2 linked regions of the Homo sapiens genome follow. The protein of the gene in region 1 interacts with the protein of each later gene in a biochemical or structural test. Each region holds a gene or a part of one and is shown on either strand. Other genes may lie near its edges. The genes, in order: SLC22A12 and PDZK1.

Evidence for each region.
Region 2: the proteins of SLC22A12 (region 1) and PDZK1 form a complex in vitro, tested with the Homo sapiens proteins (2 studies listed by BioGRID and IntAct, with this or other methods).

The regions. Positions count from the first base shown.
Region 1 is NC_000011.10:64,585,513-64,595,826, reverse strand, and holds the start of SLC22A12 (solute carrier family 22 member 12), read right to left. Parts: upstream 4,608-10,314; 5' UTR 4,271-4,607; coding exon 3,869-4,270; intron 3,049-3,868; coding exon 2,945-3,048; intron 2,423-2,944; coding exon 2,268-2,422; coding exon of another isoform or gene 2,193-2,267; coding exon 2,024-2,192; intron 1-2,023. UniProt on the Homo sapiens protein: Electroneutral antiporter that translocates urate across the apical membrane of proximal tubular cells in exchange for monovalent organic or inorganic anions. Involved in renal reabsorption of urate and helps maintaining blood levels of uric acid.
Region 2 is NC_000001.11:145,681,509-145,691,679, forward strand, and holds part of PDZK1 (Na(+)/H(+) exchange regulatory cofactor NHE-RF3), read right to left. Parts: exon of another isoform or gene 8,601-10,171; coding exon of another isoform or gene 8,543-8,600; intron 6,516-8,542; coding exon of another isoform or gene 6,514-6,515; coding exon 6,304-6,513; intron 5,219-6,303; coding exon 4,969-5,218; intron 1,129-4,968; coding exon 992-1,128; intron 1-991. UniProt on the Homo sapiens protein: A scaffold protein that connects plasma membrane proteins and regulatory components, regulating their surface expression in epithelial cells apical domains.

The sequences.
Region 1 (10,314 bases):
GTCCATCCATCCATCTATTCCAATCATCTATCCATCCATCCATTCATCCATTCCAACCATCCATCCATCCATCTATTCCAACCATCCATCCATCCGTCTATTCCAACCATCCATCCATCCATCCATCTATTCCAACCATCCATCCATCCATCTATTACAACCATCCATCCTTTCATTCCACCCATTCAACCATCCATCCATCTATCCATCCATTCAACCATCCATCCATCCATCCCTCCTTCCATTCCATCCATCCATCCATTCCAACCATCCATCCATCCATCCATTCCAACCATCCATCCATCCATTCATTCCAACCATCCATCCATCCATTCCATCCATCCATCCATCTATTCCAAACATCCATCCATTCCATCCATCCATCATCCATCCATCCATCTATTCCAAACATCCATCCATCCATCCGTCCGTCCATCCATCCATCCATCCATCCATCCATCCATCCATCCATCCATTCAACCATCCATTCAACCATCCATCCATCCATCCATCCATCCATCCATCCATCCATCCAACCATCCATTCAACCATCCATCCATCCATCCATCCATTCCATCCATCCATCCATCCATCCATCCATCCATCCATCCATCTATTCCAAACATCCATCCATCCGTCCATCCATCCATCCATCCATCCATCCAACCATCCATTCAACCATCCATTCAACCATCCATCCATCCATCCATCCATCCATCCATCCATCCATCCTTTCCATCTATCCATCTATCCATCCATCCATCCATCCATCCATCCACCCATCCATCCATCCATCTATTCCAACCATCCATCCATCCATCCATCCATCCATCCATCCACCCATCCATCCATCCATCTATTCCAACCATCCATCCATCCATCCATCCAACCATCCATTCAACAATCCATCCATCCATTCCATCCATCCATCCATTCCATCCATCCATCCATTCCAACCATCCATCCATCCATTCCATCTGTCCATCCATCCGTCCGTCCATCCACCCATCCATCCATCCATTCATCCATCCATCCATTTATTCCAACTATCCATTCATCCATCCATCCATCCATCCATCCAACCGTCCGTCCGTCTGTCCGTCCATCCATCCATCCATCCATCCATCCATCCATCCATCCATCCGTCCATCCATCTATTCCAACCATCCATCCATCTATCCATCCATTCAACCATCCATTCAATTCATCTATACAATCCAATCCATCTATCCACCAACTCACCCATCCACTCATCCAATCCACACATCTGTCAACCCATTTATTTATCTGTCTCTATCTATCTACCTACCTACCTACCTACCTACCTACCTACCTACCTATCTATCTATTTCTACTTACCTAACAATTCATCCATTCAACAAATATTTATTTAGCACCTACTATGTGCCAGGTGCTCGGCAAGGGCCACGCCTGATTTGTTTCAGGGCAGTGCTGACATTTCCTAACCTCCCACACATGCCGGCCCTCTGTGGGGACTGTGGACTCCCCTCTGATGAGTGGATCCTGGTCCCTGTCTTCCAGCAGACAGACACAAGCATTGATTCTGTCAGCCCATGAAGCAGACTGCGGCTGTGCGCTGTGTGTGCGGGCATGTGTTGTATCTTTCCACTCGCTCCCCTAGCCTAGCTCAGTGCTGCCATGCCTGGCACACACAGAGGAGGGGCTCAGAAGATGGGCCTGGCAGCATAGATGCCAAGGCAGGCAGGGACAGGAGAGGAGAATAGGCCAAGAGATGAGGAGGAGGGAGGAAAAGAGAAGAATAAGTAGGAGAAGGAGCACTTGAGAGGAGCAGGGGAGGCGCCCTGGGGACCCAAGCCCTGGTTGAAGTGGGTGTCTTGGGTTTGTGGGTGGTACACTCTGCCACGCTCCTGGCTTTCCTCCAGCCCATGCACCCCTGGCCTCTAGCACTCCCCAGCCCCCAGGGAAAGGAGAGTCTCCCATTCCCCCGGGTGGAGAGTGGGCAGGATCTCCTCTGAGGAGGGGAGTGGGGCACAGCACCCACCAGGAGTACAAAAAGCAGAGGAAGAAGGGGACCGAGACCACCAGCTGCAGCAGTGTCCAGTCCCGCACACCGTAGGCCACTGCAGCTGTCAGGCCATGGCCGAAGCTGAAGCCCAGAGAGTTCAAGGTCATCACCAAGGGTCGGGCCCGTGCCGCCGTCCACTCCATCACTGCAAGGAGACCGAGTGGTTCAGCCCTGGAGCCTGCATGGAGCCCCCCTGCATGGCGCCAGGTCAGAGACCTACGGAGAGTGCCCGTGTTCATCATGACGCCTGCCACGGCAAAGGCCAACAGGAAGCGGAACAGGCAGTACACGGGGAAGGCAGGGGCGAAGGCAGCTGCCGTACCCATCACAGCCATCTGAAGGTAGCTCCAGGTTAGCACCAGCCTGCGCCCAAACCTGCGGCACAAACCAGGAAGAGGCAGGGTCTGTGGCTTGCCACGGCACAGGCCACGGGGCTCTGGAACACCTAGAGCCCACCCTATGCTTGCCCGCTGAGCTGAGGCGGACACTGAAGCGGCACCTGGGTGAAACCTACATTCTCCACCTACGGAACCCTCCGGAGCACAAGGAGAGTCCCGAGGCCAGAGCCAAAGGGAATGGGCTCCAGTCACCAGGAGCACTCAGGTTGCTGCTGAAGGAAGGCGCATGGCCAAGCCAGTTTTAGCAGTGAATGTTTGCTGGGGAGCAGAAATCCTCTACAACCCCCAGAGTAAAGTTGGTGAACTCGAGGTTCAGAGAAGGTTCCAGACCTCCCTACCTGGCACGGCTGCAGGGTGGCTGGTCCGAGACCCACACCCAGCAAGTAGGGCGCTTTCTAGACTTGGTTTTGTGAGGCTGGTTTGGGGCCAGTCGGCCAGGGTCCTAGGAGAGCAGGGGTTGTGAGGGGAACTGGGACCTGCCTGGACTGGGGGTACTCACCTGTCTGAGGCAGGGCCGCACGCAGCAGCTCCCACCAGAATCCCAGCCAGGTAGATGGACTGGGCCATGGGCTTCAGAGCATGAGAGTCACACACGAGGTTCCACTGATGGGAGAGGAGGAGGCTGAGCTCAGGAGGTTGGGAGAGCCCCAGCAGAGAGGCAGAGGAACCGCATGGGAGGGCCCCCAGGGAGCTGGGTGCGGTGGGTGGTCTGGTGACCTCTAGGGTTTTAGAGCAAGACCCTGTGGAACAGTGAGGGCACCCACAGGCATAGTTTGGCCTTTTGAGGAGTATATCCTGCCACCCTCTGCCTGAACTCTTCCATGGCTCCCTATTGCCCAATGGGTCTCTAGCCACATCTGCCCCTCTCTCCTGTCTCTCCACTTGGAAGCAGCCACCCAAGCTGACACCCTCACCCCTCTCCCAGAGGTTGCTTCCCTCCTGTTCTTTATAAAGAGGTTCTTCCCACTTGTTGGGATGAGCTGCCCCTCTCTGCTTGCCTGGCTTTGCCTGGCGCCCCATCTGGGAGGCAGCCTGGGGTAATCCCTTACTCTGTGTGCTTTGGTCTCGGGGAATCCAGTGAATTGTCACTGAGTCCCCCTGCTGCTGAGTTGCCTGGAGTCACGGCTGACAGGTCAGCAGGGCCAGGACAGGGTGAGGCCGGTGAGTGTCCAGGTGCCAGCATTTAGAGGTGCCCGCCCAGGTGCCCCCCGCACCTCCAAGAGCCTGGGCTGGCCCCATTTGTAGACTGATCCCTGCCGCCCACTTCCCTGTGTGTGGCTGACGAGGGGCTGAGAGGCTCGAGAGTGAGTGGGGCCTGGGGAGGTGGGTCCCTCCCAGGACTGGACCTTTGAGTCTGACCCACCGTGATCCATGACTGACCTCCAAGGTGGTGGGACTCGAGTGGCTCTGGGGGAGGCCCTACCTTGGCCACGATTGTGGAGGTGAAGATGCTGCGGTCATAGACCCAGCCATCCACACACGGCTCCGTGTCGGCCTCGCTCCAGCTGGTGGCCGTGGCATTGGGGTCCAAGAGCTGCCACTGTGGCTGGCGGAAGCGGCGGCACTGGTGGGGCCTCTGGTTGGGGCCCGGCGGGATGGAAATAGCCAGGAGGGCCTCAGGACTCAAGCTCCCTAGGATGCTGGCCTGAGCCGTGCTGTTGTCCAGGAGGGGTGCCCAGCAGCGGTGGCTGGGCACGGCGGCCGAGAAGTTCTCCAGCATGCTCTGGGTACACAGCCACATGATGGAGACCATCAGAGCCATCGTCTGGAGAACCTGGAACCTGCCCAGGCCACCCACGAGGTCCAGGAGTTCAGAAAATGCCATGGAACCTACTCAAGGGGCCCAGAAGAGGGGCCCACTTCACAAAGGCTGGCCCAGGGCAAAGAGGCCAGGGCAACGGGCCTGTTTCCCCCACGGTGGTGCCCACAGTGGCTTCTCCAGCCCAGCGGCTAGGCTTCACAGACTCGGGGCCGGAGGCTCAGGCTCTCTGGTCATCTGCCTGCTGGTGTCACTTGGGGTGGCTCCAACTGGGCCCTGAGGCCGCGTGAGGTGATTCCGAGACCTCCAGCATCTCCCCAGAGAGGCAGCTGCTCCAGACCTCCCGGGAAAGCTGAATTTGGAAAGTAGGGAATGTGGAGACTGAAGACTTTAATTTTAGACTGGAATTAAAGTGTGACCGGTGACACTTATGGAATCGAGTTTAGCAATCATTTCCTTGGTCAAAGTTTAACCCGCGTTGAGGCAGGCACAGACGCGAGGGAGGTGCAGCCTCCTCTGCTTGGGGGCCAGGGCCGGCCTGCTCTGTGCCAGGTCTTGGGGAGGCCTAAGTTTTTCTCCTGGCGGCTGTGGGATGCCAGGGCTGCCTGCTCCCTTCGGTGCCCCTGTGTGCCCACCTCCCAGAGTGGCTGAGCCAAGAGAAGGTGGGCCAGGGGATCCCCCTAATTTGGGGCTGGGGCAGCTGTGCAAGTCTCTGTGTGGGCTTGGGTCACTGGCAGCTGCCCAGCCCCTGCGCCTCCCAGGCTGTGTGGCCTGGCCCCACCCGTGGCTCCTGCCTCCACTCACCTGCTGTGGTTGGCGTCCTGTGCCCGCTTTGCTGTTACCCTGTCCTGAGTCCTCGGTGGAGCTTCCCAGCATCAACAGACACCCCACAGACTCCCCAGGTTCGGTGTGCCCAATGCCACCCTGAGATCTCTGTCCCCTCCCCAAATCTATGCCTCCTGCAGAGCCCCACCTCAGCTATGGCCTCTCATGTCACAGTGTCTGGCCTGGAACCCAGCGTCTTGGTTCACGCCTCCTGCTCCCTGCCTCCCAAATCCACCAGGGGCCAAGCCTGGCTAGTTTTGCCTCCTAAGGATTTCTCTCTCCCACCTCCCCCACTCCACAGCTGTCCCTGCCCTTGTCTTTCTGCCTCAACTCCTGCCCCTGGACCCACCACGCACTGCGAGCCCTTGGGTCAAATCCTGCTTAAAAGCCAAGGGGCTCCCAGTCAACAACAGCTAGTGGTGACTTACTAGGGCAGGTGAGTGGACAGCAGTGTGTGCTGATGCAGGGTGTGGGGTTCAGGAAAGGCTGGACCGAGGCCAAGAGAACCCCCTTGGTCTCGATAGCTAATTCTGTAGGCGAAAGGGCCAGAGAACACAAAGCAGTTAAAAAGTGTGTGTGCATGGCCGGGCGTGGTGGCTCATGCCTGTAATCCCAGCACTTTGGGAGGCCGAGGTGGGGGGATCACTTGAGGTCAAGAGTTCAAGACCAGCTTGGCCAACATGGCAAAAACCCATCTCTACTAAAAATACAAAAGTTAGCTGAGCATGGTCGTGGTGCACAGCTGTAATTCCAGCTACTTGGGAGGCTGAGGCAGGAGAATCTCTTGAACCCAGGAGGCAGAGGTTGCAGCAAGCTGAGATTGCACCACTGCCCTCCAGCCTGGTTGACAGAGAAAGACTCTTATCTCAAAAAAAAAAAAAAAAAGAAAAGAAAAAAAAGAAGTGTATGTATATGTGGGTGTGTGCACATGTCTGTGTATGTGTGCACATGTGTTTGCACAAGTGCATGTGTGTACATGTGTGCATGCGTATATGTGCAGTGCAGCAGTGATGGCAACCCAGGTGTTTGCTCTTATGAGCTTTGGGCATAAAACTCTCCATTTGAGGCATAAATGCCCCTCCCATCTGCTTCTTTTTGCTTCACCGACTCTTCCCGCTGCCCCTCCACATGGCTTACCAAGCCAACTTCTTTGCCTCCCTGGGCTCTGCACCTTGAGTCATCCACTGCTTCCACCACATGCCCTGTACATGCTTTCTCAGTTCCCACCCTTGCTTATGTTGGACCTCCAGCCTGGAATGCTGTCTCCAGGCTCACCCTTAGGCCACATACTGTGTGGAATGGGCACAGTCCAAATACTCCTCCTCCAGCGGGCTCTCTTCACTTATTCCTGCCTACAACTAGGGCTCAGAGTTGTCAGTGGAATCTCATCTTTACACTGTCCTGCATTCTTCTCAAACTCCTGACCTCAGGTGATCTGCCTGCCTTGGCCTCCCAAAGTGGTGTGAGTTGCGGCACCCAGCCATGACCTGCATTCTTCTATTATGGTCCAGTTGGTCTTATTTCCAGTGAGCTCCTGGTAGTCTGGAACCCTTCTTTAGAGGCTCTTTGGAACTGATTTGGACAACAAATAAAGGTTCCATGGAGACTTGCTGAAGTGCATGGATGATTTTTTTAAAAATTTCATTTATTTTCTAATTATGAAATAATTTACACACTTCCTCAAAAATTCAGAACATATTGAAATGAAAATAAAGATCCCTCATATACTCATCAACCAGTGAGTTACACTACTGTTTACAGTTTGGTGTAAATATGTGCAGACTTTGTTTTAGTAACTGATATGTTTAGCTTCATCAGCTTGAGCTGCCAAATAAGCTTTACATTTCCTTTTGTAAAATCCAAAAGAAATACCTCTGCCTTTTAATTAGCGATTTTAACCTGTTCACATTTATTGTAATTATTGACATGTTTGGACTTACTGTATGTTTTCTTGTTTACCACATTTTCCCTTTAAATCTTGGTTTCCTTGTTCCTAATTTCTACTGAATCCATTAAGTTTTCTTGTTATATTCTTCTACTGTCTTGGTCTGTCAGTTGTACGTTTTATTTCTGTTACCCTTATATTTGAACACACAAACCAGGGGTTATTTGATACCATCTTCTCTCTTCAAACCTACCACCTTCTCTTCTATCCTCTCTCTCAATAGATGACCTTTTTTCTTATTTCACTAAAACAATAGAAGCCATCAGAAGCCAACAGTCTAATTCTCTCACCAGCTCACCTGCCTTGGTGCCCCCACATTCTGCCTTCCTTCCACCCAGTTTGGTTTCTCTCTCATCCATGCCAACCCCTCACTGTGTGCCTAGAGCCCACCCCCCTTTGCCTGCTCACATCTCTCTTTGGCATTTGTCTTTCCCTCGCTACTGGATAATTTCCACCAATGTACAAATATGCCATTTTTTTCTGTAGCCTTCCAAAAACTCCCCCTCCATTTGAGCCCCTCTTTCTTCTTAAGCGACTGCCCCACCTTTGCTTGTATTTACAACAAAATTCTATGAAAGTATTATTGACACTCATTTCCAGTTTCTGTCTTCCCATTTTTTTGTTTGTTTTTGGATTCATTCCCATCAAGGTTTTGCCCCTATCACTCTGCTGTCACCAATGACCTCCATGCTGCTAGATTCAATGACATTTTCAGTCCTCATCTTACTTGAGCCATCTGTCTCTGATCTCCATCTGAGAATACTTTCTTCCCTGGGCCTCCAGGACTCACTAGTTCTCAATCTTCTTGGTTGGGTTTTCCTCTTCTCCACACACTGTTAACATTGGAGGCCACTGAGCTCACTCCTTGGTCTTCTCTATATTCTCTATCATCTGGTCCATTCACATCTTTAGCCTGTACCTCTTCTTGGAATGCTAGATTTTGATCCAACTGCCTAATCTTAGGTGCTTAATAAACATCTCACACTTAGTGTGGCCAAAGCTGAGCTCTCCCAAAAAAATGCTTCTCATGCAGCTTTCTCCACTTTTTTTTTTTTAAGTTGAGTCAGAGTCTTGCTCTGTTGCCCAGGCTGGAGTGCAGTGGCGCCATCTTGGCCCATTGCAGTCTCCACTGCCCAGGTTCAAGCAATTCTCATGCCTCAGCCTCCTAAGTAGCTGGGTCTATAGGCATGTGCCACCATGCCCAGCTAATTTTTGTATTTTTAATATCGATGGGGTTTCACCATGTTGGCCAGGCTGGTCTCGAACTCCTGGCCTCAACTGATCTGCCCACCTCGGCCTCCCAAAGTACTGGGATTATAGGCATGAGCCACTGCACCCAGCCCCAAATCACCAGCATTTTAATTTCAGAATGTGTAATTTCCATTTCAGAATCCGTGTTTGGTTCTTCCTATAACTGCTTCTTCTTGTTTCCTAGTTTCCACTTCTTGTTTCATAGGTGGAATAATTTCCTTGATCTCTTAGTGGATATTACGAGTGTTTCTCTTGGGCCAGGCGTGGTGGCTCACGGCCGGAATCCCAGCACTTTGGGAGGCCGAGGCGAGTGGATCACTTGAGGTCAGGAGTTTGAGACCAGCCTGGCCAACATGGGGAAACCCTGCCTCTAGTAAAAATACAAAAATTAGCCAGAGGTGGTGGCACACACCTGTAATCCCAGCTACCAGGGTTGCTGAGGCAGGAGAATTGCTTGAATCCATGAGGCGGAGGTTGCAGTGGAGCCAAGATCACGCCACTGCACTCCAGCCTGGGTGACAGAGCAAGATTCTGTCTCAAAAAAAAAAAAAAAAAAAAAAGAAGAGTGTCTTTCTTCTTAATATCAATATTCATTTGTTGAGCTGAGTGTTGATAATGCACCAGCCACTGCTCTAGGCACAGGGATGCAGCGGTGAACAAACAAGATAATTCCCTGTTCTCATTGATATGTAGAAAGACATGCCAATGAGAGAGGAGAAACACATCAAGAAATAAATGAATATAGTGACAAGTAGTAATCATGCTGTGGAGAGAACAAGATAGCATAAGGGGCAGAGAGTAAGGATCATGTTGCCACTTTGGGTGGGGCAGTCAGGGAAGACTTCTCTGTGGAGGTGGCATTGAAAGAGACCCAAGTAGATGAGGGGACAAGACACACAGTTGACTGGGGAAAGAATATTGCAGGCAGAGGGAAGAGTATTATGCAAAGACCCTGGGGTGGGCATGTGATTTTATGCTCAAGAAGTAGGAAGGAGGCCAGTATGGTTGGGGAGAAGTGAGTGGGAAAAGTAGAGCAGTTTTGGGGCCAAAACATACACTTCCTTATAGGGTTTTGAGGAGAGAAGTGGCATGATCTGACTAATGTTTTTACAAATCTCCCTGGCTGCTGTGTGGAGAACAGACTGAAAATGGGACAAATATAGAAGAAGGGGTTCCCCCAGGAGGCTGTTGGGGTGGATCATGTGAGCAATGAGGGTCAGGGCTAGGGGATTAGGGCAGGTGGAGAGAAATGCTTGGGTTTGGGGCATATTGCTTTTCTTTGACTAAATACAGGGCCGAGGGTGAAGAAAAAGGATAAACTGATGATCAGGTGGGTGGTGGGTGGATGGTGGGCCATTTACAGAGAAGCAGAACACTCGGGGAGAAGCAAGTTTGATGGGAAAATAAATCTTTTTTTGTGTGATGATATTGACATGTCTATTAGCCATCCAGGTGGTGGCATCATGGAGCGACTTGGGAATAATTAGGGGATAAAAGGCATTTTAAGTCACAGGACTGGATAAGCTCACGTAGGGTGCAAGCTTTCATAGCAAAGAGATGACGTTTGTGATGGAGCCTTTGGTCTCTGATGTTGAGAGGTCAGTAAGAGGATGACCCAGCAAAAGAGCTGTGAAGGCAAAACCAGTGAGGCCTGGAAACCAGGACAGCAGGATGCCCCGGAAGCCAGAGTGAAAAGTATCTGACAGAGTCAATCAGCAATGTCACATCCTTGGCCGGGCGCGGTGGCTCACGCCTGTAATCCCAGCACTTTGGGAGGCTGAGGCAGGTGAATCACCTGAGGTCAGAAGTTCGAGACCAGCCTGGCCAACATGGTGAAACCCTGTCTCTACTAAAAATACAAAAAATTAGCCAGGCATGGTGGCACATGCCTGTAATCCCAGCTACTCAGGAGGCTGAGGCAGGAGAATTTCTTGGACCTGGGAGGCAGACGTTGTGGTGAGCCGAGATCACGTCATTGCACTCCAGCCTGGGCAACAAGAGTGAAACTCCATCTCAAAAACAAGGAAACAAAAAAGTCTCATCCTGCTGAGAGGTGGGGTGGGATAAGGTCTAGAATTAGCCCCTGGAT
Region 2 (10,171 bases), on another chromosome or scaffold:
CGATCTCCTGACCTCGTGATCCACCCGCCTCGGCCTCCCAAAGTGCTGGGATTACAGGCGTGAGCCACCGCGCCCGGCCCCTATCTCCACTTCTATAGTTGTTTTCCCTTATTTAAGTATGACCTACCCACATAGGTGCTAACTGAGCCCAAGTAGGAGCTGGAATTCAGAAAACCCATAAAGGTACCTAGATAAAAGCTAGAAAGGGAGTTTGGAAAAGAAAAGAAAGTAAGGGTCCACGTCAAAAAATCATTCTACAAAGAGAAGGTTGGTCAATTTTTAAGGTTCCATATGACCTCAAAGGAAAATCTCGGTTATCTCCCACTTCCTATTAAAGCATTTCAGTATTAACGGCTCAACAGTGAACTTATTGTAAATTCAGAGGGCGCAGTGGCACACGCCCATAATCCCAGCACTTTGGGAGGCCAAGGCGGGCAGATCACTTGAGCTCAGGAGTTCAAGACCAGCCTGGCCAACATAGTGAGACCCTATCTCTACAAAACACACACACACACACACACACACACACACACACACACACACATAAAAATTAGCCAGGTGCGGTGGTGCACACCTGTAGTCCCAGCTACTCAGGAAGCTGAGGTAGAAGAATCATCTGAGCCCAGGAGGCCGAGACTGCAATGAGCCGAGATTGTGCCACTACACTCCAGCCTGGGTAACAGAGTGAGACCCTGTCTCAATCAAACAGTTCAGAGGGGGCTCCCAATCAGATACAAACAAGATCCAAAAGGTAAAGTTAATAATTTTGTAGACCTCATGTGAAACTAGGGAAGGCTTTATTCCAAAACCCTATATTAACACTGCTTATACCACTAGTGTGAGTCTGTTCACCCTTAATATGAAGGGGCAACTCAACTGGATATTTTTTCCATCATAAACTCATGCTGTCCCCTACCACCCCTGTCTTCCTGTCACCTCCAATGAGAATAGAGTGGAAGATAGGGTAAGAAAAGTACCCTTTGGGGCATACCTTTTCAACCACTTCCTCATGGCTGGCATCCTCTACATTCTCTCCATTCACTTCAATCAAGTGATCATCAGCCAGAACTCCAGCTCTCATAGCCACACCTTGAGGTGTAATATCAGTCATGTACACCCCCTTTTTACCTGGAAGAGAGTAGGGGTAAACTCCATGTGGAGACACAAGTGACTCCCTCTTGGATGGTAATCTGTGATGTTGACTTCTGATTAGCCCCAGTCCTGTGATTGCCTCCCGATTTCTACTTCATTTACTGTCCCTAGTCTAAGAACATGTCAACCTTAATGTTATCACGCAAATTATAGGCTATGATGCACTATAGCATTCTTGGCTATTGCGGAGGGCTGCCTTCGATTGTCTTGCTGGAGCACATATACCCTTTCCCTATGGTATATCAGCCTTGGGTCTGGGGAGTAACACAGAGATCTACATGTTTTGTGGCTGTCCAAGACCATGCTTCTGTTCGTAAGTTCCCCTGATAAATTCCAATGTACCAACAAACTGGATTTGCCTGCCTTGTCCTTTGGTTTCTCAGCTCCTTTGGCCTTTGAGGGACTGCTTTGCATACACCACCCTTTCACAGAACACTCCATTGCAAAGAAAAACTCGAAATCCAATGGTAAAGACTTTTCTCCCAATAATGTGAAACAAACTTCCGATTTTAGAGCTAACTCGGCCTTTGGCTTCTGATCTAAAATCACAGTTATAGGTCCTGGCACTGAACTTGACACAGCCTTTACTCAGTGGGTATTTGTTGATTTGAATAGAATTTCTGAGGTCAGCTAAATGCAAAGATGGAATCTTGGGTGGCCTTGGCCCCTTGAACCAGAAAGCGCTAAAACATGCCCACACTGCATTATTGTGTCATACGCCCTTTCTTTGCATTTGTAGAATCAGAAAGCATCTTTACCATTCTCTCCTCTTCAGTTTGTACTATTATATTAGCCATCGTATGCTGTGGAGTCATCTCACCAATGTAGGCTAACAAGGACAGGCACAGGAGGGAGGGAAGAACCCGAATGCATTTAGGTGGTGAGATTTAGGTGCTACTTATAGAAATGCTGTCAATTCTTCAAAGATATTAATAGAGCAGTTCCCCCTTAACCATGGGGGATACATTCCAAGACCCCCAGTGGAGGCCTGAAACTTTAAGATAGTATACCGAACCCTATATGTTTTTTCCTGTGCTTACATACCTACAATAGAGTTTAACTTATAAATTAGGCACAGTAAGAGATTAACAATAACTGAGCTAATCTTAGCAACCTCAGCATACAGTATTTTTTCTTTCCTTATTAAATCGAGAACTTTTCACTTAATAGAAGCACTTTACAGCCTTTTTTTTTTTTTTTTTAACAGATGGAGTCTCGCTCTGTCACCTAGGCTGGAACGCAGGGCCGCAATCTTGGCTCACAGCAACCTCTGCCTCCCCGGTTCAAGCGATTCTCCTGCCTCAGCCTCTCGAGTAGCTGGGACTACAGGCGCCTGCCACCGCGCCTGGCTAATTTTTGTATTTTTAGTAGAGATGGGGTTTCGCCATGTTGGCCAGGCTTGTCTCGAACTCCTGACCTCAGGTAATCCACTCGCCTCGCACTCTCAAAGCGCTAGGATTACAGATATGAGCCACTGTGCCCGGCCACTTTACAGCTTCTCTTTGTCATATCTGAACTGCCAGCATCACTATCCTTGCATTTTTGGCTTTTTTTTTTTTTTTTTTTGAGACGGAGTCTTGCTTTATCGCCCAGCCTGGAGTGCAGTGGCGCAATCTGAGCTCACTGCAACCTCCGCCTCCCGGGTTCACACCATTCTCCTGCCTCAGCCTCCTGAGTAGCTGGGACTACAGGCGCCCACCACCACACCCGGCTAATTTTTTGTATTTTTAGTAGAGACAGGGTTTCACCGTGTTAGCCAGGATGGTCTCGATCTCCTGACCTCATGATCTGCCCGCCTCGGCCTCCCAAAGTGCTGGGATTACAGGCGTGAGCCACTGCGCCCGGCCTGAGCTATTATTTTTTATTGATACATAACATTTGTACATATTTATAGGGTGTGTGTCATATTTTGATACCAAGAGCATATAATGAACAAATCAGGGTGTAATATTTAGGACATCCATCCTTGAACATTTATCATTTCTTTGTGTTGAGAATATTTCAAATCTTCTTACAGCTATTTTGAAATGTACAATACATTGTTGTTAACTACAGTCACCCCACTGTGCTATCAAACATTAGAACTTATTCCTTCTCTCTGTGGGTTTGTACCCATTAACCTAGCTCTCTTCATCCCCACCCTACCCCACACACATACCCTTCCCAGCTGCTGGTATCTCTCATTCTACTCTCTACCTCCATGAGATTCACCTTTTTTAGCTCCCACATATGAGAATATGTGATATTTTTCTTTCTGTGCTGGGCCATTATTAAGCAAAATAAGGATTATTTGAACACAGTACTTTAATACCGTGACAGTTGACCTGGTAACTGAGTAGTAAGTAGTAAGACTAACAGGCAGGTAAGCACATGCCACGTGGAGATGCTAGACAAACAGAGGATTCATGTCCAAGACGGGGCAGGACAGCACAAGATTTCATTACACTACTCATAATGGTTCACAATGCAAAAATTATGTATGGAATTTTCCATTTAATATTTTCAGACCACAGTTGCCTGCAGGTAAGGTAACTGAAACTATGGAAAGCCAAACAGGATAAGGGGGGACTCTTGTATGTCAACCTAGGCAAGGGATCGCTTGCTAATGACTACATAAATCACTTGTAAGGAATGACAATAACTTAAACTCTGCTTCCTTAAACACTCAGCATTTCTCCTGCTACCTTGTTATATATTTGTCATGAAGAGACCATTTTCCTCATAAAGCTAACCTAAACCATTCACCATGTGCATTAGCACATGAGCCAGATGAGTAGAATCTGAATTATGATTTTCTTTTTTTTACCACTTTACTGATAATAGGCTTCTAAGACGTGCCAAGCTTCCTTTGACTATACACACCACTGTGTTTAATAACTGACAGACCTGAGAAATACCCCTTATCGTGAGTTTACATCTCTTGGTACAGGTTAAATAAGCCTTAGAAACTATTTTAAATTTACCACTGGTCTGCTGCTGTATCACTTGCCAAATCATGACCTACCACCAGTGCTTCTCCAGCCCCAGAAAGAACATAGGCAGAGGCAGTGTTCAAGAAGGAATTGACCAGCTAACACAGCTCCTCTGGTTCCAACCAATACCCCAGAGCCACGGTCAACTGAACACAGGTTAGTCTGCACCTCTGAAATTCTAGAAATAGAACTTCTGGTGCTTCCTGATGGTCAGGGTTTCTCAAATCACTATGTACCTCTTAGCCAGAGCTCAAAGATGCGCCTCAGAACAGGTGGGGCTGAGCCGCAGCTGAGGGTACTATCAAAATGTTACAGGAGGGTGGAAATTTTTGCGGTATTCTCAGCAAAGGTAACAGTGCCTGGCACATCAGCAGGTGCTCAAGAATTTGTTGAATAAATGAATGACTATCTGGGCACTCAGATAAAAAAAAGATACCAATCTTACTCAAAAATAGCTATTATGAAGAATCTCATTTTTCTTGCCTTTTATTCCTTATTCTGCCCTTCATTTTCACCCTAAGAGGGCTAGAAGCATCAACCCTCTGGCCCCCTGACCTCAAAGAGTCCTCAAGTGCCAGCCTGACAAACACTCAGGGACAGGAGTACCCAGTGCCCCCCACCCCCACTGCTGTCCAGTGTCCCTCCCCCATTGCACAACTGTGCAAGGCAAGGGAAAGGGCAGGGAGGGAGTGAGAGACGGAGGGAGGCAAGCTGTTGCAAGCTATCTATAGCAACTGAAAAGTCAGTCAAAGAAGAAAAGTCATTAACCAGTAGCATCTTTGTTCTGGAAGCCTGTTGTCTGTGCCCTGCCCCTGCCTCCCCCTGCTCCCCAAAAAATTCTCACCTTGGACAGTTTTCAGAGAGAAGCCATAGCTGCCTCCTTCCTTCACGAGATAGCAGAGCCGGGGCTGGGTCCAAGTTTGCACACCTCCATTCATCACAGGGGAAAGTATATTATCACTCAAACCTTGCTCCTTCTGACTTTGACCCAACTCTTTCAAGTCCACCCGTGTTTTCACTGCTTTCTCATAGGAATCCCCATCCAGAACTAGTAAAGTCACTGAATTCCCACTCTTTCTGACCAGATCCACAACCTAGGAGGGAAGAAGAAAAAGGTAACTTTAATAACCCTCTGCCAACTGCCAGAGGGAAATGCTGACCATCTGGCTCAATATCTGGCCCTGGAGATGCTGCTAGTTGACCCTTGACACCCAAGTAGAAGCAGGTAGTTCCTCAGCCACCTCCATCCCTGCCCTCCCGAGATCCAGGTGCAGATTAGGCTGAGCTTCTGGCACTGCTGGAATATAGAGTGTGGTTCAACCCCAGCCCAGAGGGTTCTTACAAGACTGGTCCTTTCTAGAGAGGAGCGCTGCCCTAGATTGTAACCATTCCTCCCGTGTGCATGGGGACAGCACAGTGTAAGGAAAAGACCATGCTTTTGGAGTCAGGCAGAATAAGGTAAGGCCAGACTCTCCCATATATCCTCAGCAGGAACATGTTAGCAAGCTAAGATATCTGTACTTAGCTTCCTAATCTGTGAAATTGTAACATATACCTTATGAGGTCATGATGAGGACTTAACAAGATAATGAATATAAAATTGCTGGCCGAGCGTGGTGGCTCATGCCTGTAATCACTGCACTTTGGGAGGCCGAAGCGGGCGGATCACGAGGTCAGGAGATCGAGACCATCCTGGCTAACACGGTGAAACCCCATCTCTACTAAAAATACAAAAAAAAAAAAAAAGCTGGGTGTGGTGGCGGGTGCCTATAGTCCCAGCTACTTGGGAGGCTGAGGCAGGAGAATGGCATGAACCCGGGAGGTAGAGCTTGCAGTGAACCGAGATCGCACCACTGCACTCTAGCCTGGGTGAAAGAGCGAAACTCCATCTCAAAAAAAAAAAAAAAAAAAAAAATACCTAGCACCATTTTTGGTATATAGTGAACATGCAATTCATGTTAGACCTAACGCTATTCAAATCCAAGAGTAATGTGTACAGTTCTTGGTTCCTCATAGGGGACTTGATTGGCCAACACAAGGTACAGCAATAAAGGTGTCCTGCCTTGCCAGTGGCAGCCAGGAAAGAACCAAACTCTACCAACCCCCAAAATTATAATCAGCAGAGAAGATGTGGGGGCTGAAGAGATCCTGGAAGAAAAGCCCCAAATGTCTCATTCACCTGCATATGTTCTTCTTTGTCCACAAAGACACCATTGATCCTAAGAACTCTGTCTCCATCTTGAAGGCCAGCCTTCTCTGCTGGGCTACACTTCTCAACCACCCGGACCAGGTGGCCCTCGGTGTCCTTCTCAATTCGCAGGAAGAAGCCATAGTTTTGCCCTTCTTGCTTGGACAGTTTACATTCTCGGGGGTTGAAGGTGGAGGTCATTTCTGTGATGAAAAAAATAAATTAATAAAACCATGGAAAAGAGAATCTAATTGGAGTGAGAACCCCATCCTCCATCTCCTATAATTCTGTTCTTCCAATCACCAAATCTAGACTGCTTGGGTAGTAATGCTGGGGGCACAGGAGGACACCTTCCAGAACTTGCTAATGATTTCCAAATCTGTTTCCCCAAGGACAACCTTTTTACTAGAGTTTCAGACCCACGTATTTTTTACTGAGTACTGGACACAGATGCTTCCATTTCAGTATCTCCAACCAAACTCCTCTTTGTCCTCTGACCTAAAGAAATTAAGTCCAAATACATGACCCAAAAAATTTATGACAAGCCCACTCTCATTCAAACATTTGAAGAGCTTTTCAAGTTCAAGGAATCGAGGTTAAATCTGTAGACAAGATGGACCCATACCTTGCCTCTTCTATTGGGGAACATTATTACATTCCTATAACCACACGTGGTGAGTGTCATGCTGGGGAAGAATGCAGTGATAAGGGGGAAAATAACAAAGGGTCTTGGGAATAGGGAGCGGGATGGGAAGAACAAAGAACATTTCCTGAAGGAATGACACTTCCAAGAACTGAAGGATTAGTAGAAGCTTGGTGAGGTAGGACAGGACAAGGAAGAGCTTAAACCATTAAAAAAGGCAGGCACAGTGGCTCACCCCTGTATTCCCAGCACTTTGGGAGGCCGAGGCGGGCAGATCACAAGGTCAGGAGTTTGAGACCAGCCTGGCCAATATGGTGAAACCCCAGCTCTACTAAAATTACAAAAATTAGCCAGGCGTGGTGGCAGCCACCTGTTGTCCCAGCTATTCGGGAGGCTGAGGCAGGATAATTGCTTTAACCTGGGAGGTGGAGATTGCAGTGAGCCGAGATCACACTGCTGCACTCCAGCCTGGGCAATAGAGTGAGACTCTGCCTCAAAAAAAAAGGACACCAGGCCTTAGAGCTGGTCCAATATGTTGGAGATGCACTAGAAAAGGCTGTTCTGGCCCCTGAAGTCTCTAGCCACAGCAGAAAAGAGATGCTCGATAGAAAAGGGATTCCAGTGGCTAGGTTGGGGCTCTCCCTCCCAGACGCTTTGTCACCCAGGCTGCAGTGCAGTGGCGCAATCGCAGCTCACTGCAGCCTCGAATTCCTGGGCTTAGGCGATCCTCCCACCTCAGCCTCCTGAATAGCTGGAGCTACAGGCACATATCACTATGCCCTGCTAACTAATTTTTTTAGAGACAGTGTCTTGCTTTGTTGCCCAGGCTGGTCTCAAACTCCTGGGCTCAAGTGATCTTCATGCTTCAGGCTCCCAAAGTGCTGGAATTACAGAATGAGCCCCCATGCCTGGCCTGAAGCAGCTTCTATTTCCATTCATCCTGCCCCTCCTGTTGCCCCATTGCAGGGGCAAGGTCCTGAGCCATAGGAGGAAGACAGGACAAGTGTAAAACCGACAGCTAGGGCTCCGGCACACAGTTATTATTAAGGGTAAGACTTCTGCCAGTGCCCCGACACCTGCTGGCTGAAAGCTTTTTCTTTTATAGGAGAATAAGAACAGGGGCCAGAACAGCAAGAGGCTGATACAGAAGGCAGAAGGCTCACAACAGAGCACTGGAGTCTGCTCTTCACACCACCTGCAAGGCAAGCCCTCAAGTTCCTCTCATCACAGTTCCCTACCTACAAATCAGAATAAACCACCTATCCCTTCCCTCCTGGAGGGACAAGAACGGATGACCACACAGGATATGGGGGAGGGTGAAGAATAGGCCACAAAGTGCTCCAGGCACCCTAGAAGCCATGGCATGGTGATTGAAGATAGCCATCCCTGACCTTCATGCCCACAGAGACGTACAGTACAAATCAGACAGAGAGCCCCCAGCTGCCCAATACCAGGCCTCTCCTGCAGTCTCCGCAAAGTCTGAAGCCCCACGCCACCAGTGGCACGAGTGACTAAGTAGCGAAGAAAGAAGCAAACAAATAGACTCCCCATCGAGCATTGAGGCAAGAAAACAGCAAAGCCACTCACCAGTGGTCAACACCAGCACCTTGGGAGAGCTAGGCAGCTCTGCCTTATCAAAAGCCATGACCAGCTGCCAGGAAAACACCACTCTGGGATGAAAGGAGAAAATATGGCATCACCAGAGTTGAGTCACATCCAGGCACCTGTTTGTGGCCCATTCCAGCTCCCTCACCTTTCACTCCTCTTTCTGCTGATCCCAACCTGCGAGCATCAGTTCAGTTTCAGCTTGAGTTCACATCTATGTCCAAGCTCACCTGTAGATCCCTACACCTTTCCATTTCATAGGGCCAAAAGACCCCAAAAGAAAAAAAATCAGAAAAGAAAGACGAGGTCTCAATGTACTTTACTGGGAGGATCAGACAGTAATTACATAAATGAATAGGATCATTTCAGATAATGATATTTGCTGTGAAGAAAATAAAACAATGTCAAACAAAACATGCAAAGCCCTCTTAAAGTTGGGAGTAATTATTGGAGAACCTCATTCAAATCCTACAAAATTTAAAATATGTCCTTATAATCAGAATAAGGCCAACAGATACTATGTTTTCATCAAGAGATGAGGCTGTTTGTGATCAGCATATGAATGCTCATTTCTAAGGCACTCACACCCAAGACTCAACAATCTCACGCCCTGCAGTGTCAACCACAAACTCTTAATCTCTTTGTTTGTAGGCCAAGGATAGAAAGTGAAACCTCCTCACTAGGAGAACCAGCCCTGTGTTTGGAGAGAGGGGAAGAGGCAAAGGTTTTCCTATGTCTCACTGGAGACCTGTGAGCCTGACATACAAAGAAACACAAATCACTGTTTCTTGGCAGAATCTCAAGTTGACTTTTTTGTTTGAAGTTTTCAAACAGCCAGATGGTAATCGCTCAGATCTGCATCTATGGCTTTGAAGGCTCAAGCATTCAAGGTCAGTTTCTTTTTTGTCTGGTTGAAGCCAGAAAATTAGAGCCACTTTATACCAATAGTGAAATGCTACCATACTGGTGGGGAAACAGCTACTGCTGCAAGCCCCCAACTGCCTTCTGCCACTGTGTACTCCCCACCACACAGCCATTAATGGATTAATGCTATGGCCATCGATCTGCATGTACCCAGGCCAAACTGATTAAATATTTAACGCCCCCAGCTGCACCAATGGGGAAAGCAGACCTAAACCTCAAAAGCCTGGTCTTACATGGGAACCTAAAACTATTTGTTTCCTTTGCCATCTTGCAGAAAGATGATTCATCTAGGAGCCAAGGGAGCTGGGCTCTGGTCCACCTCCAGGCCTTGTTCTGTCTAGTCCACATCCTGGTGTTACTCTGTCCCCTAATTCAGAGCTGGGGTATGTCTCTTTCGCAAGACTCTGTCATTGCTCCATGACAAGGATGCCTGGGACTCTGGAACACAGGGCCTAATTAGGAAGGATCTTTGTATTTAAGGATACTCTTTCCTACTTCTTTAACCCCACCTCATCTTCTGCCTCCTGAAAAAATCTAGAGATCAGACCCCTCTGGTGGATAGACACAGAAGAAATGAAGGCCTATGGATTTCTAGAATATCATTAGCAGCAATCATTTGAAGTTGGAGTCCATTAAATCCAGCAGGCTTTGTTCCCCAGTTCAAACAGCCAAAATACATGGTGGTAC